Linked DNA regions of Homo sapiens. The protein of the gene in region 4 interacts with the protein of the main gene of each other region in a pairwise test. Each region holds a gene or a part of one and is shown on either strand. Other genes may lie near its edges.

Region 1 (7,035 bases), on a different chromosome or scaffold from region 4:
CACTGTGTGGCTCATCCAAGTCAGTGACCTTGCTGTAGCCTTGGGAATACCTGTTCTAACCCTCTCACTGGTGGCAGATGGGAAACTGGCCTCTGTGAGGATCTTGCTCAGGAGTCGCTTGTAGGCCTCGAAGACAGATTCCCAGGATCGACCTGGTCTTGCTTCTGCTCACAGTGCTGCCTCCTTCATGAGCCATTCGGCCTCCTGTGACCCAGGAGGCATTAGCAAGACCTCCCCCAGGCCTGGCCTCCTGGCCGTGTGTCTGCTCAGCCTCTCGCCACCTCCCTCTACCTACCTCAGGTGCAAGTTTGCTTAGAATGAACAGACATCATAAAATAGTATAATTGATTTTTTTTTTTTTTTGAGACAGAGTCTCACTGTGTTGCCCAGGCTGGAGTGCAGTGGCGTGATCTCAGCTCACTGCAACCTCTGCCTCCTGGATTCAAACGATTCTCATGCCTCAGCCTCCCGAGTAGCTGGTATTACAGGTGTGCGCCATCATGCCCAGCTAATTTTCGTATTTGTAGGAGAGAGAGGTTTTAGCTATGTTGGCCGGCCTGGTCTCGAACTCCTGGCCTCAAGCGATCCACCCACCTCAGCCTCCCAAAGTGCTAGGATTACAGGCATGAACCACCAGCCAATAAAATAATAGAACTGGCCGGGTGCGGTGGCTCACACCTGTAATCCCAGCACTTTGGGAGGCTGAGGTGGGCAGATCACCTGAGGTGAAAACTTCCAGACAAGCTTGGCCAACATGGTGAAACCCTGTCTCTACTAAAATACAAAAATTAGCCAGGCATGATGGCGGGTTCCTGTAATCCCAGCTACTTGGGAGGCTGAGACAGGAGAATCGCTTGAACCCGGGAGATGGTGGTTGCAGTAAGCCGAGATCGTGCCATTGCACTCCAGCCTGGGCAGTTGAGTGAGACTCCGTCTCAAAAATAATAATAATCATCATCATCATAGAATTGATTTTTTTAAATTCAATTTTGTTTTTATCAAAGTGCCATATGACTTGCCTCTACCAAGTCAAGAGCATTAAAAGCCCTGTATCAAATAATAGCAATCCACTGCCCTTCCCCTGGGCACCTCACCCGGCTTTCTCTGTCTCTTCATGCATGGGCTTCCATTTTTCTCAATAGTCTCACTCTGTCGCCCAGGCTGGAGTGCAGTGGTGCAAGCATGGGTCACTGCAGCCTTGATTTCCCCAGACTCAGATGATTCTCCCACTTGAGCCTCCAAGTAGCTGGGATTACAGGCACGTGCCACCAAACCTGGCTAATTTTTGTGTATTTTTTGTAGAGACGGTGTTTTGCCATGTTGCCCAGGCTTGTCTCAAACTCTTGGGTTCAAGTGATCCACCCGCCTCAGCCTCCCAAAGTGCTGGGATTACAGGCGTGAGCCACCGTGCTCAGCCTATCCTGTTGTTTCTTGATCTATCACCTGTAAATATCTATTGACTTTGCCTCGTCTGGTAGATGAGAATTTAGTTCTTCCCATGACCAGTCTGTTTCCTCTCATCCCACCTTTCCAACATAGTTATTTTTCTATTTTTGGCTAAATTAATATTAGTACAACGGAGATTTTGTTCGGGAAATCTTTTCCAGATGCCTCCTAGGCTCTGTTGTAGGCACTAGGGATAAAAGAATAAGAAAGCAAAGATCCTACTCTTGCGGAGCCCTCATTCTAGTCAAAACAACTCTATGTTTAACTTTCTGAGGAATCTATGTTTCTTTTCTTAATTCAGCCTGTTCTTGTGTTTTGAGAGGGTGGGGGTAATTTCCTGTTTTGTTTTTTTCATTTGCACTCTCCTTGTTTTCTCAGTATGTTTTCCACAATTTCCCATCTTTTTTTTTTTTTTTTTAAATTAAGTCTTGCTCTGTTGCCAGGCTGGAGTGCAATGGCGTGATCTTGGCTCACTGCAACCTCCAGCCCCCGGGTTCAAGTGATTCCCCTGCCTCAGCCTCCGAAGTAGCTGGGATTACAGGCACGTGCCACCACGCCTGGCTAATTCTTGTATTTTTAGTAGAGACGGGGTTTCACCATGTTGGTCAGGCTGGTCTCGAACTCCTGACTTCAAGTGATCCACCTGCCTCGACCTCCCAAAGTGCTGGGATTACAGGCGTGAGCCACCATGCCCGGCCCCATTTTCTTCAGTCTGTTTTCCGCCCTGTAGTCTCTCCCCCTTGTGCCCTCCCCCTGCCCCTGCCCCTTCTCTTTGGATTCCCCCATCTTGGGGGTCCCTTTCCTGGTTTACTCCCTGATCTCCCGTGGAGAATATCCTCCTGTAGCTTTCTGAGAAAGGGCACGTGGGATGTCAATTTTTTGAGACCTCGGGTCTGTCTTTTTTGGTCATTGTGGTTCCCATATTCCTTTCAGTTGACATTTTGGCTCATTCGATTCAAGAATGAACGTCAAGGTTGACAGTAATTCCTGTGTGGAAGTGTGATGGCCTTGTCACATTGTCCTTTGCTGTCACATGGCTATTGCCATTCTTATTGGTGATCCTTTATTTGTGATGTGTTTTATTTCTGATCTGTGAGAACTTTGAGGACTTTGTTTTTGTCCCTGGTGTTGGGAGGAGTCGTGATGGTAGCTGCAGGCACAGGCTTTTGTTTATTGTGCCAGATCCTCAGAGGGCGTCATCGGGAACACCATGTCCTTCTTGTCATGTATCTCGATGATGACATCCTGCTTTCTGTATTCTCTGTTCTGCTTTTTTCTATTTTTTTATTGTGGTAAAATTTACCATCTTAACTTTTTTTTTTTTTGAGACAGGATCTTGCTCTGTCGCCCAGGCTGGAGTGCAGGGGTGCGATCATGGCTCACTGCAGCCTCAACCTCCTGGGCTCAAGCGATCCTCCCACCTCAGACCCCCGAGTAGCTGGGACTACAGGCACGCGCCACCATGCCTGGCTCATTTTTGTATTTTTTTTGTAGAGACAGAGTTTTGCCATATTGCCCAGGCGATCTTCCCACCTCGGTTTCCCAAAATGCTGGGATTACAGGTGCGCACCACCGTGCCCAGCCCTTGGTCTATTTTTGAATTAGGTTGTTTGGTTTTTGTTGTTGAGTTTTAAGAATTCTCTACAAAGCACAATCGGCTAAGAGGAAAAAAAGAAAAAAGAGTTTTAGGAATTCTGCATATATTCTGGATATTAATCCCTTATCAAAAATGTGATTTGCAAATATTTTCTCCCATTCTGTGGGTTGCCTTTCTTTTCTTCTCTTCTCTGTTCTTTTTTTTTTTTTTTTTCGAGACAGTGTCTCACTCTGTTGCCCAAGCTGGAGTACAGTGACGGGATCTCAGCTCACTGCAGCCTCTGTTTCCCAGGCTCAAGCGATCCTCCCACCTCAGCCTCCCAAGTAGCTGGGACTACAGGCGTACACCACCATGCCCAGCTAATTTTCGTGTTTTTTGTAGAGACAAGGTTTTGCCACATTGCCCAGACTGGATGGTGTATTTTGATGCACCAGTTTTAAAATTTTTATGAAGTTCAATTTGTTTATTTTTTGTTACTTGGATCTTAGGTGTCACATCCAAGAAATTACTGTAAACTCCAATGTCGTGAAGGTTTTGGACTAGGCATTTTTCTGAGTTTTATAGTTTTAACTTTTACATTTAGGTCTTTGAACAATTTTGAGTTAATTATTATTATTATTATTATCTTCGAGACAGAGTCTCGTTCTGTTGCTCAGGCTGGAGTGCAGTGACATGATCTCGGCTTACTACAACCTCCACTTCCCAGGTTCAAGCGATTCTCCTGCCTCAGCCTTCTGAGTAGCTGGGACTGCAGGCGCCTGCCACCATGCCCAGCTAATTTTTGTATTTTTAGTAGAGATGGGGTTTCGCCATGTTGGCCAGGTTACTCTCGAATTCCTGACCTCAGGTGATCTGCCTGCCTTGGCCTCCCAGAGTGTTGGAATTACAGGTGTGAGCCACTGCGCCTGGCCTTGAGTTAATTTTTGTATGTGGTGTTAAGTAGTGTCAACTTCATTTTTCACATACCATTGTTGAAATGACTGTCCTTCCCCATTGAATGTTCTTGACACCCTTGTCAAAAATCATTTGATGCCGCCGGGCACGGTGGCTCACACCTGTAATCCCAGCACTTTGGGAGGCCAAAGCAGGTGGATCACCTGAGGTCGGGAGTTTGAGACCAGCCTGACCAACATGGAGAAACCCTGTCTCTACTAAAGATACGAAATTAGCCGGGCGTGGTAGCGCATGCCTGTAACCCCAGCTACTCGGGAGGCTGAGGCAGGAGAATTGCTTGAACCCGGGAGGCGGAGGTTGCGGTGAGCGAGATGGCGCTATTGCACTCCAGCCTGGGCAACAAGAGCGAAACGCCGACTCAAAAAAAAGAAATCATTTGACTATGTATTTGAGGCAGGAGAATTGCTGGAGCCCAGGAGTTCAGTGCCACAGTGAGCTGTGATCACGCCACTGCACTCCAGCCCGGGTGGTGAGACGCTTTCTCAAAAAACGAGAGCAGAGGGTAGAGTGGAAGACAGAGCCAGGCAGTGGTCAGGTGTCTTCCCAGGTTCCATCTTAGCCCTCCCTTTCTTCCCCCACCACTCTCCTTATGCACCCACAGGTATTTGACAACACCCCAGCAGCCTTGGACGGCACAGTGGCAGCTGGCGATGAGATCACCGGTGTCAATGGCAGGTCAATCAAAGGGAAAACTAAGGTGGAGGTGGCGAAGATGATTCAGGAGGTGAAGGTAAGGGCTGCTGCAGAGCAGGTGTCCAGAGGCAGCAACACATGTTTCTGAGACCTCCAGGCTGCCAGAGGTCCCAGCAGGCCTGGAAGGGGGTATCAGCCCTCACCGCCCCCTTCCTTGTCATGTGCAGGGTCAGGGTCACACTCCAGCCTCCCTCATCCATCCCTCATTCATTCAATAAATACTAATCGTGCTCCAGGACTTGTGCTGAACCTTGGCAAGAGAGTGGGCAGCAAGACCACAAGGTCCCCATGAGCTCCCAGGGAGCTGACAGACTTGGAACCACCCCTCAGGCAAGCCCATGTGTCCCCAGTCAGTGCCAGAGCTGAAGCTAAAAGTCCAAGGTGATCCTCCCTGGGTCAGTAGACACCCAATAATGTCAGCCGGGTCACGCTGGGCCTGTGAGGGCTAGGAGGGAAAGAAGAGTGCCCTTTCCCCATCCTGTAGGAACTTTCGGTCCCACACAGCCTCCTGGGCTCATAGACACCCAGAGACCCCCCTCCCAGGCCAGCTGATCTTCTGCTCTACAGACCAGAGTCACACACTGCCTGCCCCGCTTTCCCCCACCCCTGCCGCTCCAGGACTGGAATGGCAGGCGGCATCCCGGCCTCTCCTGAAGCGAGCATGCAGCCCCTTTGCCATTTCCTAGCGAAGTGGCTGCTAGCTAGTCTCAGGAAACCAATACTGTGAAAGAACTGATGTGCAGGCAGTGCACAGCCATGGGGTGATTTGAAAGTCTCGGGGGCAAGGGTCCCCACTGTGAGTTCAGCTTGGCCAAGGGTGGCAGCTACCTCCCTCAGCCCCACTTCCATCCTCCGGGTTCTGGCACTCCTGATAGTCCGCCTTCCTGCCTTAACCCAGGCCAGCCGCTGCTCCATCCTCTCTCCCCTTTATCCTCCTGTCCTGCTCCTGAGTAGTCCGTGCTTCTCTCCTTCCTTGCTGTAGGAAGAGTCCCATCCTGCACATTCTCCTATTCCAGCCCCTTTAGCCATAGGACAAATCAGGGCCTGGGGCTGGGGCTCAGAGCTCTGTTGTAAAAAAAGGAAGCAGCAAGGTTCATTGAGACCCCACAGCTGCCACTCCACGTGGTCTGGGTATCACTGCCTCAGGTATGACCTGTTAGGCAGAGGAGCTGATCATGGGAACAGGTGCAGGGGGTCTCGTTCTGGCCGAGTTGGGTTGTGTGTGCCCCATTTGGCAGCCCTTCCCCCCTCCGCATCTCCTCCCCATCTCCACTCGCCAGGTCCCTCCCTGTCCTCTCAGGCTTGGTCATACCAGCACCTCAGGTTGCCCATGAGGACAAGAGCTCTTTGTATTTGCACACAGCCATGACAGGGATGCAGCATTGGCCCAGCTCCCCTGTTTGGGTGCTGGGCAGGGATTACTCTCCCATCTTACAGGTGTCCACAGGCGGGGAGTGACCTGCTTGTGGTCACACAGCTGAACTGGAGCCCGGGCCCGACTCCCACTGCAGCCCGCTTGCCGTTGGCCTACAGCTGCTCCCTGTGGGGTGGCCCCTGAGCACGCCTGTGTTTCATTCTGCGGGAGCAGTTCACACCCCACCTCTGACTCTGATTGCATCTGCTCATTTTGGTTTCCCTTTGGGACTTGATTTTAAAATCCTGTTTTATATTTGGATGAATGTGGTCCCAAGTTCAAGGGCTTTTGGTTTGCAAGGATGAGAGTGAACACAGCGCCCTCCCGTGCTCAGGCAAGTCCTCTTGGGAGAAGCCTTTGTCTCCTGAGCAGTCGTTAGAAAGTGGTTTGTGTAATTCCCTGATTCGCATCAGCCTTGCGGGGCTGGGGCTGCCCCTGCCCCTCCCCTTGGTGCCCCAGCACCAGGCACAGAGCAAGTGCTCAGATGTGCTGTTCGATGAGTAGAGGGATTCCTGGGGATGGGGTGTTTTGGGGTGGAGGAGGGAATAATCAGTGTAGGGAAATGACACGGCAAAGGCTTGGAGTGTGGTTTGCGTGGGGAGGGAAGAAGGAGAGCCTGACCTGGCCGAAGCACAAGACATCAGAGACCGCCAGGCTGTGGGCCCGGTGCCGGCCCTGTCCCCACTGATTCCCCAGGGCTTGGATGTAGAGTAGGAAGGGAGGGGCCTGGGATCAGACAGGGTCACAAGGTGGGGCCATGTCACAGCGCTCAGCCTGGCCCTTACTGGGGCTTAGGATTCTTTTTTTTTTTTTTTTTTTTGAGACAGAATCTCATTCTGTCATCCAGGCTGGAGTGCAATGGTGTGATCTCAGCTCACTGCAACCTCCGCCTCCCAGGTTCAAGTGATTCTTTGCCTCAGCCTCCTGAGCA
Region 2 (7,411 bases), on a different chromosome or scaffold from region 4:
ATCTCAAGCCCTTAAGATACGCAAGGCACAAATTCCGTCAGAGCTGCTCGGACTGCGTACCAACCCAAATCTTTGAGACAATGTTAAGTACATGGTGCACAAAAATCGCTGAAATTAGATCATGAATTGAACCTCAGGTCAACTGATGTATTTTCCTCTCTTCTTTACCCTGTATGACAGGGAGTGATGCAAAGTTGTAAATAAGGAAGCAAAAATAAATTGATCTTATTTGTAAATAGCTGAAGTTCAACTTTCTGGATGCTGGACAAATGCTCTAAGAAAGGCTGTCAAATGCTAGAGGTAATGTGAAAGTTGTCAAGTGTTGGCGATGGGATTCAAGATTAAACAGGCCATTAGATCTGGGTATGGGATAGAGAACTCTTGAACCCTCAACTGAGTCACGCAATATGACTCTATCTTTAAAGAGTTTCTACTAGAAAAGTATTATATATACATACATTTGAGAATGTCTTCCTAGAATTAGATTTGAATCTGTTGGGGGAAGAAGTTTGTACACGGCAGCATAAAATGTGAAAGATGCACCAATTACAGTATTGCACAAATACACATTTCTCTTAATACACTCTTTTTGGCTGGAATAAAAATTTCAAGTTAGCTACCATCGTTAGCTGTGCCATTTGCACCAACTTAGAAAGTGAGGCCAATGTATAAGTAATTAGCCATTTTTAATCTGATTGCCAAGCAGCTAACACAGCTTCATTAAGAAAGTCCAGGAACTAACATGCATAAAGACTTTCATCATGTTTTTTTTTTTTTTCAGAGGCAATTATGGGACCTCTGCAAAATGACCACAATGTTGGCCTACAGCAAAAGTCTTCGTTGCCTTTGGATCAGTGCTGTGATTCACTATATCATTGCTGTCTGGATTGACATAGAACTTCTGAACTGATTCTTTTCGGATGTATTTCTGAGATTCTTTCTCCTTTCTGAATTCAAAAGACTGAAAGAACAGCTAGAACTCTACTGTTAGCAATATGATCATTAAACCACCTGGAATGCTAAGTGACACGTAGCATGTTTTATGGGCAACGAAGGAAAATAAAAGATTACTGCCGAGAGATATAGCCTCTTTTTATGATTGAACAGGAATTAGTATACACATTGGAGGCAAAACTGTTACCAAGAACCTTTGTCAAATAACTAAATTTAGTGACCAAATACCAGGTGTCATCTAAGCAAGAAAAACTGTTTCATAGTAAAATGATATTCTTTTTCTGTTGTTAACCTTATGTCCCAGAAATACTTAGTCAGCTAGAATATTACAAACCTTTATATGTTAAGGACTGCCTTTTTATTTTAAAATGGAGTATAATAGAGTTAATAATATATGCCTCAAATATACTTATAGACATGGATTCTCTCATATGTGTACATCATTGTCAGACGTGGAGATGCCCATCAATGTATCATAAGAATAATCTGCCTGAACTGAAAATTGCCTGCTAGTCTTAATCCATGTTGATTCAGCTCTTTTTATACTATAAATGCTTGCCTAGGTTCAAATACTTTAAATCTACCAATTAAATACTTAAAACACTTTATTGAACATAGAACTGCTATCATTCAACACTCCAGTTTCATTAATCAGCCCAGAAATAGGTAACTCACCACCATTCCCTGATCCTAAGTACATTACCACAGTGACTGACATTCCTGGTTTAAAAATAAAATCTTGTTTCAAATATAGCTTCCCGAGTTCTGGGTAATGAATATAGTTTCATAAAAGTTGACATCATTTCTTCTGATTTCGCCAGAATTAAATACATCCAGTATGCCTCCTGGATATCTGACCACCATATCACTCAAGGCTCTCACAACCTGGTGGGCGTTTTAAGGAGAAGGAGAAACAGACCTGCATAGATGGGGTTAAATCCAAAAGATATCTAATCTTGTGGTTAGAATAGTCGTTGTGTTTATGTGTGTTCAATATGCCATTCAGAAGTTGATTTTTACAGTTCATTTATCAGTTGGCATGCATACATTATGCAGATTTGCTTATGAGGAGAACATTAATATGTACATGTCCAGAACTAGTAAATGCATTATGCTTGGAAGCCAAGCAGTACTCCCATACACTGTTCTTCTTAGAGGTCAGTTCTAACGCATGCTGTTCCAAATAGACCCAATTTCTCTGCTGATATATATTCAAAATGCAGTAGGATGTGGTCATACACACCCAGAAATACCATCTTCATGAGGTGGGGGTGGTGAAATTCAAACATTTTTTTTTTAGCAATGCATTATTGGATATCAGGTACAAACGTGCCTGTCAGCAATTCTAAAGCAAATGAAATAGATTTATTTGAGTCCATCCATTATACAGAAAAGATATTGCTTTACTAACACATACCTCCTCCTCCTCCTCCATTTTGGGGGGACTCTCCCCACCTCCCCCCAAAAAACTCATCACAGTTCACTACGCAACTGATGGAGTATTAAACACTGTCTTCCAAGCTGTGGGAGTTAAAAAGAAGTCGCCTTCCTGCCACACTTCCCCAGTGCTGCAATGGACATAGCATCTCCTCCTCTATCGACCTAGTATGATGCTCGCTCCCCAAGCACTGCAGTCCCCTCGCCGAGGATTGCCTTGGCCACACGCACATGCAGCGGGAAGTCCCCCGATAGGGACAACCACATACCTTTGCTCTCCATTTCGGTCCCTTTCGAGTGCTGGGAAGTTCAATGGAAGTTGGCCGGAAGATGTGGGCCCGCTTCAGATTCCCAAATCTGGGAAGCCAATCTGATGATTTCGCCCGTACTTCCTTCCTTCCCCTCAGGCTTCCTGAAAGATGGGATTTCTTAAACCTTGAAGCTGCAATCAGCCACCAAAGGACACTTAGGAGCAGCAGCAGATTGCCTCTACAGGGGATACGTTGCGACGCGCATCTGATACTGAAATGCATGCACAGTGCCCGCTCAGATTTTTTTTTTTTTTTTTTTACCTGGGTCTGGAAGCTGCAGGCAGGAGCTGTCCTCCGAGCGTGGTGCTGCAGGTGTAGTGACAGATCATCCCACTTTGCTCTCTGGATGCACAGCAGATTTGCATGGGCGCTGGCACGCATGCGCAGGGCGTCCCCCCTCCCCTTTTCACCGCCTCCCGCTCCCCCGCCCCCTTCGCCTCCCTCCCCAATACGGTCCTCAGTTATCCCAGCTGAGGAGCTGTAGCATTCGGTCACAGGGAAGCGCTGCTAAAAATAAACGCCGGACCGGATTTTCCTCTGCAAACTAGAAAATGGATTGGACTAGTACTGCGTGCATCAGGACGAATTACTGAAGTCTTAGAGGAGGCTAGTGTCTCCAGGCAGGGTATGGTTTTATTCAGAAGGCAGGGAGGAGAGATTTACGAATCGTTTTTAATGTTCACAATTTGGGTTTCTCTTTCTACTTGCTGCAGTAACTTTCCAGCTGTCTGCTTCCCTCTCCTCTCCCCACTGACTTCACATTGCTTGTTATATTCCTGTATGTGTTTTGTTTTGTTTTTCGAGAGTGGGGTGAGAGTAGTTATGGAGCTGTCAAAGGTTAATATTCTCTCGCTTCTTTGTTACTCAAACTCAGTGTTTTCCTGCCTGCCTCCACCTCAAAACTGTTCCATGAGCAGGCTCCAAGGCTTCTAAAGTTCTTCAAAAAAGCCACTGAGGATATTTTGAGGTGCTCTTTTTAGCTTTTTTCCAACAACCTGCAAGAAGTCCCCAAAGGTGGGGAGGCGTCTTATTGATAATAAGTACTTCCAAAAGCAATACCTAATCATTTTTGTGAAGTTGCAGGGATAGAGTATTTTTCTTGTACAGAGCTCTAGAGGAAGATGCAAAACCACAAATCTCTTGAAGTGCTACTTTCATATCAAAATATTTCTAAAGCCCACACTGTATTTCGTTTATATGCAAAATGTTTAACAGGAAAAATTGTGTTGTATTTACTACCTTTTTTTTTCAATAGTCCAGATTTTCCTGAGGTGATCATCTCTCCTTGAGAATAATAATCTTATTCTCCAGAAGTCCAGAAAACTCTGTTATCTGAAATGGTTAAGGAAGGAGATGTGCAGATTAGTCACATACTCTACTTCATGAAAGATCCTTCCACAGTAGGCTTCTAGTCCCAATTTTCAAAACATTGAAATATAATAAAATGTACTCCCAACAAGAAACCTGGAGTTGTATCTAATTTAATCTTTTTCTGGTGATTCAGAGGGCATCCTTTGATTTTTCCAATGCCTGAGGGCCATGATTACAAATATTAACCACGGATGGTTCAGCCAGACATGGACATTATTAGTGGAGGACTCCCACTAATGAACTGCTGTGGGTCAGCAACGCCTGGATCCATTCAGCATTTAGGAGTATCGGATTGCAGAGGCCACAACCTAGGGCCTACTAATTTTTAGGTTCTCCAACTGTATGCCAAAGTACGTGTTTGGAAGAATCATAAAATTCAGGATTTCTTTTCAATGTTGAATAGGCTTAGGAAGTAAGCTTAGGGTGGGAGTAGTGTTGCTCCTTAAGAACAATAGTCTATTTCATTGAGATAAATAATTTCTGCTCTTAATACTGCACCCCGTTACATGTTCTTTCCTTCTCAAAGGTTTTAGAATAGGAGATATCTTTAGAATGCATCTCTATGTACTCTTCATATTTATTCTTTTACAGACGGAGAAACTAAAGGCAGGGGAGGAGTGGCACTTGAAAAGAGTCACATGGTGAACCAGATCTGGGCTCAGAACCTAAGTGTCATACCTCAAAGGCAGAGGCAAGCCATCTATAGTCCAGAATGATTTTTCATATAACTGCCTTCCCATTATCTACAGTGAATAAGAACAGGGAGAACCTTCTAGTTCATAAATTATCATTATTTTTATTCATAATTTTAAGAACCCAGCTGCTTTATTAAATAGAAAGCAAATCAAATTTAATGCAAAATTTGTGTTCTGACATTCAAGATCTTTCCATTCTTCTCCAAGCTTAACTCCTAGACAACAATTGCTATTATCCTAAACAAACCTCAAGATTGTTTTTAAACCAGGGGAAAGTGGGATCACAGACCCCCACTACCACAAATTATGCAGTCTAGTTTCCCACGTATGGGGAAATTGCAGGGGTCAGCACATCTGGAATGCAATTGATAAGCCTTGACTGGGAAAACAACCTTCTTGCTCATGATAGCTCCTCTGTCAAGATTTTTCTTACCTTTGCTTACATAGTCATTGCTGGAATATCTTGACCTCATCAAACCACTACCTACCACAAGTATCTACAAATTCAAATCTTATATTTTCCTCTAGATCCATCTCCTTCTTACAGTCTTCCCTGATACTCTTAGTCTGAAAATATTCTCTACCAAGAACACTGATGATCCGCTCACTAATGATTCCAAAACTGATGAGTTACTTCTCTTCCATCACTATTTTTTATTCTGTACCAGAATGATTTATGTATATATCTTGTTCCTTTTTCCCACTCATATTTTTAAATGGCCTCCTTTTACTTCAGTGTAGTCTAGAGTGTCCTGAACATAGGAAACAATAAAAATGTTTCATGAATTAATAACATTTAGCATACATGTTTTTGTGTACTTTACTATGTGACATTAACTACAATCACCATGATAACAAAATGATGATAATATTGACCTAACATTGCTCAGAGCTTACTATGTGCCAGGTACTATAAGGATTCTAAATGTTTAATGAATATTATCTTTATTCATTAAATAAGCTATATGAACATGCAAACGGCCAATAAATATATGAAAAAAAGTTCAACATCACTAATCATCAGAGAAATGCATATTAAAACCACAAAGAGATATCATTTCATCCCAGTTAGGATGGCTATTATCAAAAGACAAAGAAAATAAAGCACATGCTAGTGAGGAAGCAGACAGAAGGGAATTCTTATGCACTGTTGGTGGGAATGTAAACTAGTACAGTCACTATGGAGAACAGTATTGAGTTTTCTAAAAAAAAAAAAAAAAAAAAACTAGAATTACCATATGATCCAGCAATCCCACTACTGGGAATTTATCCAAAAGAAAGGGAATCAGTATATCAAAGAGATATCTGCACCCATATGTTTATTGCAGCACTATTACAATAGTCAAAATATGGAATCAACTTAGGTGTCCAACAACAAATGAATGCATAAAGAAAGTGGGGTACATATACACAATAAAATATTATTCAGCCATAAAAAAGAATGGAATCCTGTCATTTGCAGCAACATAGATGAAACTGAAGGACATTATGCTTGATGAAATAAGCCTAAGAAACAGAAAGTTAAACACCACATGTTCTCACTCATACGTGTAAGATAAAAGAAAAAGTTGATTTCATAGAAGTAAAAAGTAGAACAAAGGATAGGAGGAGCTGGGAAGGGTAGGGGGAAGGAGGGAGAGATTTGTAAAAGGATACAATATTACAGCTAGGTGGGAGGAATAAGTTCTAGTGTTCTATACGACTGTAATATGGTTATAGTTAATAATAATATTTTACATACTTTAAAATCAGCAGAAGGAGGATATTGAAGTTTCCCAACACAAAGAAATGATCAATATTTGAGATGATGAATATAATAATTACCCTGATCTGATCACTTACATTATATGTATTGAAATGTCACTGTTTACCCCATGAATGTGTACAATTATTATTTGTCAATTTAAGAAATAAAATAAAATATTATGAGGTTAGTACTATTATGATCTCTGTTTTAAAGATAAGCAACCTGGAGCACAGAGAGGTTAAAGTATGAATAAAACATGATCTCTGCCGTACAGAAGCATAAAGTCTATTGAAGATGATAGAAACATAAATGATTTTAAAAGCTATCGTAAGGTATAAGATAGGTTGTCACAGGTGGAGTAGGAGGTGCAGAAGAGTTGGCAGTCAGCCAGCCTGAGGGTTTTAAGAAAGTTTCCTGGAGGAGACATATATAGAGCTAGTTCTTGAAGTGTGAGCTTCACAGGGTTGGGGTATGAGTGTGGGGCAGGGACCATGTGAGTGTGCAAAAGTACTTTTGGACATAAGAAGTTATTATCATTTTCCAGGTTTCTCTGCCAGATGTGAATCTCCAATGTCAAAGAGGAAAGTGGACGGAGGCAGAGAAATGCTTAGTACTGTTCCGGGATCAGAGCTACAAAACTCCAGAGTATCTGGGAGAGATCATATCTCTTTATCTCACCTAAGTTTTCTATCATACATTTGAATAGAGAGACAGTAGAGCATAGTGAAAAAAATAGATTCTGGAACCAGACAGACGTGGGCTCAAATACAATTTGCTTCTTATTATTTATGGTACCATCTTGGGCAATTAATCCATTTGGGTCCTATTTTTTTAATCTGGAAAAGTAAGTAATATCTTCTTGTAGGCAGAGCTGTTGTAAGGACTGACCATAATAC
Region 3 (7,035 bases), on a different chromosome or scaffold from region 4:
TGGGCAGGATCATTTTAACGATGAGAATACTGAGGCTCAAAGGGTGAGCAACTGTTCCAAAATGATGTGGTGTAGGACAGGCGCGGCAGCTCCTGCCTGTAATCCCAGCACTTTGGGAGGCTGAGGAAGGTGAATCATCTGAGGTCAGGAATTCGAGACAAGGCCGGCCAATGTGGTGAAACCTTGTCTCTACCAAAAATACAAAAATTAGGCCGGGCGTGGTGGCTCACGCCTGTAATTCCAGCACTTTGGGAGGCTGAGGCAGGAGAAGTGCTTGAATGCGGGAGATGGAGGTCGCAGTGAGCCGAGATTGCGCCACTTCACTCCACCTGGGTGAAAAGAGTGAGACCCCCTCTAAAAAAAAAAAAAAAAAAAAGCTGGGATCTGAAACAAGATCTGTTTGACTTTGCAGTCCAGGGGATCAAACTCTGTTGTGCTTCTGCCCAGCAGCAAAGAGAGAGAGACATCTACTGAGTCCCAGCAGGGGGAAGAACGTGGGGACGCATTAAAGGATTTCATGCTTCAAATGCAAAATGCCAAGTGCTTTGTAAAAGCTTTTAGATATGAGAGGGTTCTTGGAAAAACGATTATTGAAAAAATGAACTACATAACATTCTGGCAGAATTAGGTAGACAGTGAAAAGATCAAGAGTCGCCAGGCCTGGAGGGAGGAGGAAGGAGAGATGAACAGGCAGAGGAGAGAGGACATGGAGGCAGTGAAATGACTCTGGATGATGCTAGAATGTGGACACCGGCTATGACACATTTGTCCAAACCCACAGCAGGCACAACACCAAGAGTGATCCCCTATGTAAACTTTTGGCTTTGGGGGATAATGATGTCCGTGTAGGTTCATAAGTTGTGACAAATGGACCACCCTGGTATGGGCTGTTGATAGTGTGGGAGGCTGGGCATGCGGGAGGACAGGGGACTTATGGGAAGTCTCTGTACCTTCCCCTTCCTCTCAATTTTGCCACGAACCTAAAACTGCCCTAAAAACATAAAATCCTCAAAAAGAACAACAACAAAAAATGAGATCAGTGACTGCTGGGGGGTTAAGGGGGTGAGGGGCAGGAAGGAGAGGTGAACTGCTGGAAAACAGGGGAACCGAGGGCGGTGGAACGGTTCTGTATGGCGCTGGAATGGTGGACACATGCCATTATACATTTGTCCATGAACTTTCTCACTGGCAAGCAGTCTGTGCTGAGAGCGGCAGCTGAGACACGGCCTTCCAAAGAGCAGTTCCTCCCCACAGAAAGTCAGTCCGGGGCCTTCAGAACCAGAAAGTCAATCTGGGGCCTTCAGAATGAAAAAGTCAGTATGGGGCCTTCAGAACATTGGCTTCTCTCCATGTCGGCTCAGGACACCCAGCCCTGGCATTACCTGGGAGCTTGTTAGAAATGCAGTCTTGGTGGCCGGGCGCGGTGGCTCATGCCTGTAATGCCAGCACTCTGGGAGGCCGAGGTGGGCGAATCACTTGAGGTGAGGAGTTTGAGACCAATCTGGTCAACATGGTGAAACCCCATCTCTACTAAAAATACAAAAATTAGGCCAGGTGTAGTGGCTCACGCCCGCAATCCTAGCACTTTGGGAGGCCGAGGCGGGCTGATCACCTGATGTCAGGAGTTTGAGACCAGCCTGGCAAACATGGTAAAACCTTGTCTCTATTAAAACTACAAAAATTAGCTGGGCGTGGTCGTGGGCACCTGTAATCCCAGCTACTCGGGAGGCTGAGGCAGGAGAATCGCTTGAACCTGAGAAGCGGAGGTTGCAGTGAACCGAGATCGTGCCATTGCACTCCAGCCTGGGCGACAGAGCGAGACTCCATCTCAAAAAAGAAAAAGGATTTTAGGCCTTAAAGAAAGCCATCATGGGGGGCACTGTAGTTCTCTCAGAGGAAACTTCTTCCTCAGGCTCTCTTCAGAAAGAAAAGAGGAAGGAAGGAAAGAAGGAAGGGAGGGAGAGAGGGAGGGGGTCAGGAAGAACCCTGGCTGGAGCTTCCTAAACCCTGCAATGATGTCAGACCAGGGTTTGGCTAAACAACACGGCTGAGACCAAGTGATGTGGGCCTAGCAGCCTTGAGGCCTTTCTGTGTGACAGCACAGTCCCCAGGCAGTGGACAGGGCGGGAGCGGTGGGTGTGGGGGGAGATTGAGAGGATTCCACAGGAGGCATCTCCTTCTCACTTCCCAGGCTTCACCGCAGGCCTTCAGTGCCCACTCCCACAACAGCCTCCCGGGGACGGTCCTCGGCATTCCCGCCACCCCACGAGACACTGGAGCAGGGCCTGTGGGCTTCTTTGCATCTGCAGTAGTTACCATAGTCCCTGCACATGGCTGGCCCTCAGGGGGTGTCTGCTGAAGAGTTATGAATACATTGGCTGAAGCTGAAGCTGTAGTGTCTGGCAGAGCCAGGAGGCCTGAGACATCTGAAGCCCACGCGTGACCTGTGGGAGGCCCTAGGAGCCCCAGCCCGGGCTCTCACCCGAGGCATAGCCAGGCAGGGGAAAGCCAGGGGCATCCAAATGGGCAGATAGATGCCTCCCTCACTGAGCAATCAGTGGCCAAACTTTTTGAAAAAGTGACTCACCCCTCCCCCAGCCCCTGTAAACAGCCCTCAGTTCCTAACTCCCAAAGCAGGCCTGCTCCAGTGGTCACCTGTAGTGGCCACCGTGTTTGTCTGCCTGGTCTCCATCTCCCCTGCTTCTGGTCATTGCAGACTGATGTTCCTTTGGGTAATCACTCCCCACTCCCTGCGTAGCTCAAGGGGCGGCCAGCCTGTTCTCACCCCGCTCCCAACCACCCATTTCTTGCTGCAGGAGACTGGTTCAGGGATGGGTGCCTCTATTTGAGCTGGTCTAGTAAGAGTGAAACCTGGACTTGTATACTCTGAGGAATAAAGCGGCCTCTTTCATTCACTTGTTACCTGGAGGAGGAAGGAGGGAGGGGTGAAGGCTCACTCCGGCCAGGTTAAGATATTTCAAGAAAATCAGATATCGAGATTTTCACATGAAATCTGAGTTTCAAATATCAGCATCTGCTTCCTATTACTTTAAAATACTTCGAGTGCCAGACTAAAAGTGTCTGTGAGCCAGGTTGGGCCCAGAGGCTGCCAGGAGCGCCCTCGGCTCTGTAACAGCGCTACCTTCAGCATGGCTATTCAGAGACCCTCCCAATCCGGCTGCATTATGCTTTCCCCAGCTCCGTACTCGGCCCTTCACTCTGGCCACCCAGACAAAGTGGGCCTCTCCCCTTTCTCCAGGTAGTGGTCTCCAAGGCCCAGAGGAAGCCCCCAACCCAGACACCTCCAGGCACCTGGCCCCTGCTGGTCTGTAAGCAACCCAGGCTCATCAGACCTCAGGGCTTTTGCTTTGCCTGAATTGTTCTTCCAAAGACCCACATGCTTCAGTCACTCCCTTCCTGTTTTTGCCCAAAGGTCAGCTTATCAGGGAGATCTACCCTATCCCACCCTTTAAAAAAGAAACCCGCTGGGCGCGGTGGCTTACGCCTGTAATCCCAGCACTTTGGGAGGCCAAGGCAGGTGGGTCACCCGAGGTCAGGAGATCAAGACCAGCCTGGCTAACATGGTGAAACCTCATTTCTACTAAAAATACAAAAAATTAGCCGGCGTGGTGGCGCGTGCCTGTAATCTCAGCTACTCCGGAGGCTGGGACAGGAGAACTGCTTGAACCCGGGAGGCAGAGGTTGCAGTGAGCCGAGATTGTGCCACTGCACTCCAGCTTGGGCAACAAGAGCAAAACTCTGTCTCGAAAAAACAAAAACCCTGCCTCATACGCAGTACTCCCATCCTCTCTTCCTGATGTATTTTTCTCCATTGAACTTATTATCTAAAACAGGGGTCAGCAAACTATAGTTCACAGGCCCAATACAGCCTACTGCTTGTTTTTGTAAATAAAGTTTTATTGTAACACAGCCATGCCCATTTGTTTGTATAGTGTCTATGGCTGCTTTCGGCTACGAGCCCAGCTGAATGGTTGTAGCAGCGACCACTGCCCTGCAATGCTTCCAATACCAACCAGTCCTTTAGAGAAAAAGTTTGCTGACCCTTGATTTAAAATACTAGAATGTAGACTCCACGGAGGCAGAGATTTTGTCAGTTTTGTTCACTGCCTTATCCTCAACACCAAGTAACACTACCTGGCACTTGAGGGACTCTCAAATATCTGCTGAATAAACAGACAAACCAACCAACCAAGTGAGACGACTCCATGTCTTTGTGCACGCTGTTTCCTCAGCCCTTCCTCCTCCTCTGCGCATCCCTCATGGCTCAGCTCAGAGGTTCTCTCTAACGTGAAGCATTCCCTGTCCCCTCCAGCTCCCCCACAAGCAAACAGTCCCTTCTTCCTTTATGCGCCTCTTCTTTTAGCACTTCTATATTGAGATGATCTTTCTACCTGCTGTTCTCTCCTGCTAGACTAGGAGAGATCTTGCTTGGAAACAAGATCTCATCTTGTGTCAGAATCACAAATGCTTGGCACATCGAGCTCCCAAATGACTGCTCACTGAACATGTGGGTAGATGGATAAAGGAATGTACCAATGTCTGAGACTAAGTGAATGACCTGGTGTTTTTGGGTCATACGATCTACTTCCTAAAGGTGGTGAAGAGAGACAGGTGGCTCAGAGGATCAAGAGCCACCTCTGCAAAGTGCTCTGAGCTCTTAAAAGCTCTCGAAAAACCGGCTGGGCGCAGTGGCTCATGCCTGTAATCCCAGCACTTTGGGAGGCCAAGGTGGGTGGATCATAAGGTCAGGAGTTCCAGACCAGTCTGGCCAACATGGTGATACCCTGTCTCTACTAAAAATACAAAAAATTAGCTGGGCGTGGTGGTGTGCGCCTGTAGTCCCAGCTACTTGGGAGGCTGAGGCAGGAGAATCGCGTGAACCCGGGAGGCAGAGGTTGCAATGAGCCGAGATCATGCCATTGCACTCTAGCCCAGGTGACAGTGAGAGATTCCGTCTCAAAAAAAAAAAGCTCTGGAAAAACCAAGACACCTTGCTTACTGGCTACCTGTGCTCCCCAAGATACCTCCTACACCAGCTATCCCTGGGCCTGACACCTCCTATACTGGCTTCCCTGTGGCAACTCCCTGTCAATCCATACCTCATACTCAATGGCGAGGTCTGTGTGGTCATCAATATCCACCTTGGCCATCACCACCTTCCCGTGCTGCTTGGCCACCATCTTCTCTAACCTCGGCCCCAGGATCTTGCAGGGTCCACACCACCTCAAAAGGCGAGAAAGGAAGCATCCAGTCAGTCAAAAGAGCGCTCAGCATCCCCTACTGGCTTCCCAGACCTGCATCTTTCCAAGGAATCTTTTGCCCTTATTATCTCTGTTTACCATGTTTAAAAATTAACACACCAAATGGTAATGCCAGGAGATTCTGCACATGGGAAATCTTCACAGATCCCAGACTTTTAAAACACAGGCCTCATCAGAAGACTCATAATAAAAGTGACTCATTTCAGTATATCTCAGATAAATATACTGTCATATAAAAGGATATGGGATTGGAAGTTAAAAGGTTCAAACAGAGGCTTCTCACCAACCAGCTGATTATTCTGGGGCCCTAGTTTCCTTTTTTTCTTTTTTTGAGACGGAGTCTCGCTCTATCCCCCAGGCTGGAGTGCAGTGGCGCGATCTCGGCTCACTGCAAGCTCCGCCTCCCTGGTTTACGCCATTCTCCTGCCTCAGCTTCCTCAGTAGCTGGGACTACAGGTGCCTGCCAACACGCCCAGCTAATTTTTTGTATTTTTTAGTAGAGACGGGGTTTCACCGTGTTAGCCAGGATGGTCTCGATCTCCTGACCTCGTGATCCGCCTGTCTCGGCCTCCCAAAGTGCTGGGATTACAGGCATGAGCCACCGCGCCCGGCCTGGGCCCTAGTTTCTTCATCTGAAAAAGAGAGATTATGGCTCTCAAAGCTATTAGGAGAGATCAACTAAGGCAATGTGGGTAAACATGCATTGGAAGCTGTGGGGATATTTCAAACACCATGTGGACTCAGAACTAAAAGGAGGGGAACCAATGGCCTGGAGCGTCTACAACGCACCAGTCCCTGGCTCACTTTCTCTGCTTTTACCAAACACACCCCTCAACTCTGCAAAGAGAACACACCTTCCAAAGAAACTGAAGCCCATACGAGTTAAGAAACCTGTGCAAGATTAGAGAAGCACAGCTGGGATCGATCACAACCCAAAGCTGTGTTGAAAGTGTTTTCTTTGGCCGGGTGCGGTGACCCACGCCTATAATTCCAGCACTTTGGGAGGCCGAGGCAGGCGGATCACCTGAGGTCAGGAGTTCAAGATCAGCCTGGCCAACATGGTAAAACCTCGTCTCTACTAAAAATACAAAGATTAGCCAGGAGTGGTGGTGTGCGCCTGTAATCCCAGCTTCTAGGAAGGCTGAGGCAGGAGAATCACTTTAACCTGGGAGGCAGAGGTTGAAGTGAGCTGAGATTGTGCCACTGCACTCCAGCCTGGGCGACAGAGACTCTGTCTCAAAAAAAAAAAAAAAAAAAAAAGAGAAAGTGTTTTATTTCACCCACAGGCTACTCTGATCCCACAGCCCCTGAGTTGACCATTATCACTGCCCTGATCATAGGTATTCCCCTCTCGCTGGGGAAGCTCATCCAGGACAGGCCTGGTGCTGTCATCTCTATGTATGTGGCACCAAGGAAAGTGCCTGGCACTGAATGAACAACTCACACCACCCCACTTCCTTACTGAACAAAATGAGGCATTATCCCATTTATTGTTCATTTCGGAAGGCCTCTCTGGAATGCTCACTACACCAGGAGGCCAAGACAGTTCCACCTTTCACAAACCCCTGGCTGACAACTCCTATTTTATTCTCAGCACTTACTTATTTATTTTTGAGATGGAGTCTCACTCTGTTGCCCAGGCTGGAGTGCAATGGCGCGATCTCGGCTCACTGCAACTTCCGCCTCCCGGGTTCAAGCAATTCTCCTGCCTCAGCCTCCTGAGTAGCAGGTGTGGTGGTGCACACCGCACCCA
Region 4 (3,831 bases):
TGTAGTAAGGGAAATTGGTTAATCGGATCAAGGCTTGACTACTTGACATGTTTTCCCTTTGCATTTGTTTAAAAAAAAAATCCATAAAGACTGGAGGGAAGATTAGATAGAATCCACCCTCTGCTGTATTAGAAAGCAGCAGATATGTATTTCAGTGACTGGACACTGTCTGCAAGCACACTCAGAAAAGGTCATTAATCATAGACGCTGAAAGTGCTCCAGCTGCTTCCGCCTGTCTTTTGCAGCATCTGTAGGTGCGTACACTAAGGGAGCTCCCATTGTTACCTTACAGGTATAAAAGAAGTGATTTTCATGTCTGATAAATACCATGATAGTGACGAGGCAACTGCTGCGAGGCTCCTGTTTAATATGGCCGGGGTGACATTCCGGTAAGTGGGGAGAATGCGGGCGGGGGGACGGGGTAGGGTGAAGGCTGATGAAGAGATGTATTTGACCTTGTCTCCTCCTTGTGATGCCTGACTTCCACACTTGGAGGTGTCTTTAGAAATGCAAGGGCATAAGAATTTAAAGACTATTATAGGGGTAGATATTTAAGAGCAGTGACAGGAAAATCTGAAGACCATTTGTTTAATGATTGTACTTTAATTTCAGTAACTTTCCGGGGTAATTAGACTAATTATTCAAGTACTGAGAAGTTTAAACATTCACAAGTTTTATAATAGGAATGCCAAACCTTGGTGAATTTTGCAAATGTAACAACTTTGGCATAGAAAATTTAGGATGAAAGTAGCCTGCCAGATTGAAACATTGGGGATTCTCTCTTTTTTTTTTGAGACGGAGTCTCGCTCTGTCACCAGGCTAGAGTGCAGTGGTGCGATCCTGGCTCACTGCAACCTCCGCTTCTCAGGTTCAAGCGGTTCTCCTGCCTCAGCCTCCCCTGCCACACCCAGCTAATTTTTTTGTACTTTCAGTAGAGACGGGGTTTCACCATGTTGGCCAGGATGACCTCATGAGCTGCCTGCCTCAGCCTCCCAAAGTGCTGGGATTACAGGTGTGAGCCACCTGGGGATTCTTTTTACAGCAACATTTTGCATTGAGATTTGAAGTCTTACAGATTTTTATGATTATCTTTGCTAAGAAATGGTTGTGAGCTATATTTTACTTGCAAGTAAGTTCAACTACCTTTGATTCATGGCAGAAAATTCCTTTGGGACTGTAAAGTTTTCCAGCGCTTCATGGTATTGGCGTTCAGCAGCAGTGGGACCATGGTCATAGGTGACGTGCCCTGGCCCCTTGTGCTGGTCATTAGGGATACAGCTCAGTGTATCTCATGAACTCAACCGTGGTGCCTTCTGAGACTTTAAATTCAAATTATTTGTATACTCTCTTGTTCAGTGATTCTTAAAAGAATTTGTTTTGTTCCCAAATGTCTTCTTTTTAATTGTTGTAGAAGAAATGAGGAACAAGTGAAAAGTTAATGAGCAAAAAAAAAAAAAAAAAAGTTGGTTTATGTTTGCATTTTTAGAATGTAATTTGAAAAATTACTCCTCACTAAAGGTAGTCGTTTTTTGCTATATATAAGCGGCAAAAGAAAATTTACTATTTTTTTGCATTAGAGAGACTCCAAGTTGGCTGCAGAAATTTTTCTAGAAAATAAGATAAATCTGATGGGAAAACTAGTAATCGGATATCATGTTGTGCAGCTGACTTGTTAGAAATCCTTTGACTCCCCAATAATTCGTGAACTCAGAGAGCTGAAAACATACAAACCACACCACCCCATGCATCTTTTTTTGTCTTAGTCTTTTCTGCTCTGTGTTTCTCTTGGTATGGTGCACTATAATTGGCTCCTATAGAGAGAAAATAGCAAGTGAATCCCAGGACATATTTTTCTCTGCACAGAAAATATGAGTTAAGCCAAAGTAAACAAATTGCTTTCACTACTCACCAGATAATAATTGTATTTTGTTTTTATTTTTAGGAAATTCATACCGAAGTGCAGCAAGATTGTCATTGACTTTGATTCAATTAACAGCAGACCGAGTCAAAAGCTTCAGTGAGTTACATCTCATTCAATCTCCAGAAGATTGGGATTATCGTCTTCTAAGAGGTTGCTAATGCCTTTCATCTTGAAGTTACACATAACTTCTTACTAGCCAGTATGGCAAAAGTAGGCATCTAAAGAATATAAAGCCTCAAATCTTCCTTACTGTCTCTCTTGTCACATGGAATCTACATGTGTTTGAACTATTGCTTTAGGGTTTAAAATAGGGGAGCCTGTGGTGGCCTGGTGCACAGGGCTAGAACGAGAGTGCCTCCCCTTCTTGTGTCCTGGCTGGCTGGGATGCTGGTGGCTCTTCAGAGGAGCATCAGCTGTCTGTCATCTGCTGCGATCCGGCAGCCTCTCTTCACTGCTACATGTGCTGGAAGGACAAATAAATAATTGTGGTTGTGTTCTTAATGGGGACGAGCAGACACACTGATCTGAACATCTGGCCCAAGTGAAGCATGGCATATAGTGCCCTTGGAAGAAAATTAGGCCTCAAATGACAGTAGCATTGAAGTGTTTGCTGCAGAGTTGAGGGAAACCCCCAGCCACCCTCCCGGAATCCGAGATAGGGTGGCACATCTGTCCTGACAGACGAGGAGTGTAACTGAACCAGGAATATTTCCTCCATTCCTGCTCTCCCACTGCACACAGGGTGGTGGCACATTATCCCTCTGGGGGGTGGGGACGCCTGTTGTTTTGGCTCAATTTGGGTTTGTTGGTCACATGGAGCTCTTCCATTTCGTTTAGCTGAATAATGAGTTGTTCCTAGAGGAGACAGCCTGTCTCTCCTTGTTGCCCCCAAAGCCCATGCCCTGCCGTGGTGGCAGCTGGGGCTGTGGATGGGAGGGGTCCCCAACATGGATGTGTTGCCCCTCCTCCGCATGCCAACGCAGTTCATGTACAAGGCCCCTCTGCAACTGGAGAGAAAATTAATTCCTATCCCGTGAGTGGATTGTGAGAAATTCCACCCACGTGGAGACAGCTTACTGCAGCACTGTTGGTGTTCGGAGCTCTTCTGTGCCCTGGCTCCATGCTTTCACCTACACAAGCATCACCTTCCTAATCACCGCGGGGCGGGGAGCGTGTGGCTGTGCCCCTTCTCTTTAATCTCATTTAATTTTTATTAAACATGCTCAGTACCTGTGTTGAGAAAAGGCTTTCTTTATCCTAAAGATTATTACCTTTTTAAAGTGCTCTTATATTTTCATGAGTTTTTATTTTGTCTCTGAGATTTTGTATTCCACATTCTAGGGTATTCTGTAATTTGGCTCCTTACCAATATTATTAAAATCTTATTAAAATCTACCCTACCAAAGCATGTACATTTTTATGTTATTATAATTATATGCTTAATTTTCTGCTCCTGTCCTTTCTGTATTGTCTCCGAAGCATATTACATATGTTTTAATGCTCAAAGAATAATTTGAGATGCCCAAGCTGTGTGCGTTCCCCAGGGTTGATGTCTGGGGCTGCTTTATGGATCAGATTTATGTAAAATGCGAAGGCAGCCGCTAGCCCTACGCTCTCTCCTGTGTACCCTGCCCCTGGTCCCAGGTGTGGCCATCTATCTGGTAGGGCCCAGGCCTCTGTCCTCCCGGAAGGCTTCAGTCCTGAGTTCTGCCCTTTGCTGACTTCTCACCTTATCCTCTTTCCAAGTCTCTCTTCTCTTCTCTCCTAAATTTCCTTCTCTTTTCTCCTCCAAACTCCTCGCCCTGTGTTTGCTCCAAAATACATAAAACAAAAGGTATGTGGAAAAAAGAATCAGTAGACTTAAAGGTAGAAAATTAGAGATTTCTCTATTGCCGCAAGTCACAAGAGTT

Evidence for each region.
Region 1: the proteins of DCTD (region 4) and PICK1 interact in binary tests that used the Homo sapiens proteins (3 or more experiments, as listed by UniProt).
Region 2: the proteins of DCTD (region 4) and FGF12 interact in binary tests that used the Homo sapiens proteins (3 or more experiments, as listed by UniProt).
Region 3: the proteins of DCTD (region 4) and TXN2 interact in binary tests that used the Homo sapiens proteins (3 or more experiments, as listed by UniProt).

The regions. Positions count from the first base shown.
Region 1 is NC_000022.11:38,060,404-38,067,438, forward strand, and holds part of PICK1 (PRKCA-binding protein), read left to right. Parts: intron 1-4,598; coding exon 4,599-4,727; intron 4,728-7,035. UniProt on the Homo sapiens protein: Probable adapter protein that bind to and organize the subcellular localization of a variety of membrane proteins containing some PDZ recognition sequence.
Region 2 is NC_000003.12:192,724,521-192,731,931, forward strand, and holds the start of FGF12 (fibroblast growth factor 12), read right to left. Parts: upstream 3,022-7,411; 5' UTR 2,964-3,021; intron 2,804-2,963; 5' UTR 2,674-2,803; coding exon 2,661-2,673; intron 1-2,660. UniProt on the Homo sapiens protein: Involved in nervous system development and function. Involved in the positive regulation of voltage-gated sodium channel activity. Promotes neuronal excitability by elevating the voltage dependence of neuronal sodium channel SCN8A fast inactivation.
Region 3 is NC_000022.11:36,471,613-36,478,647, forward strand, and holds part of TXN2 (thioredoxin, mitochondrial precursor), read right to left. Parts: intron 5,245-7,035; coding exon 5,121-5,244; intron 1-5,120.
Region 4 is NC_000004.12:182,889,589-182,893,419, reverse strand, and holds the end of DCTD (deoxycytidylate deaminase), read left to right. Parts: intron 1-292; coding exon 293-389; intron 390-1,942; coding exon 1,943-2,021; 3' UTR 2,022-3,329; downstream 3,330-3,831. UniProt on the Homo sapiens protein: Catalyzes the deamination of dCMP to dUMP, providing the nucleoside monophosphate substrate for the thymidylate synthase/TYMS.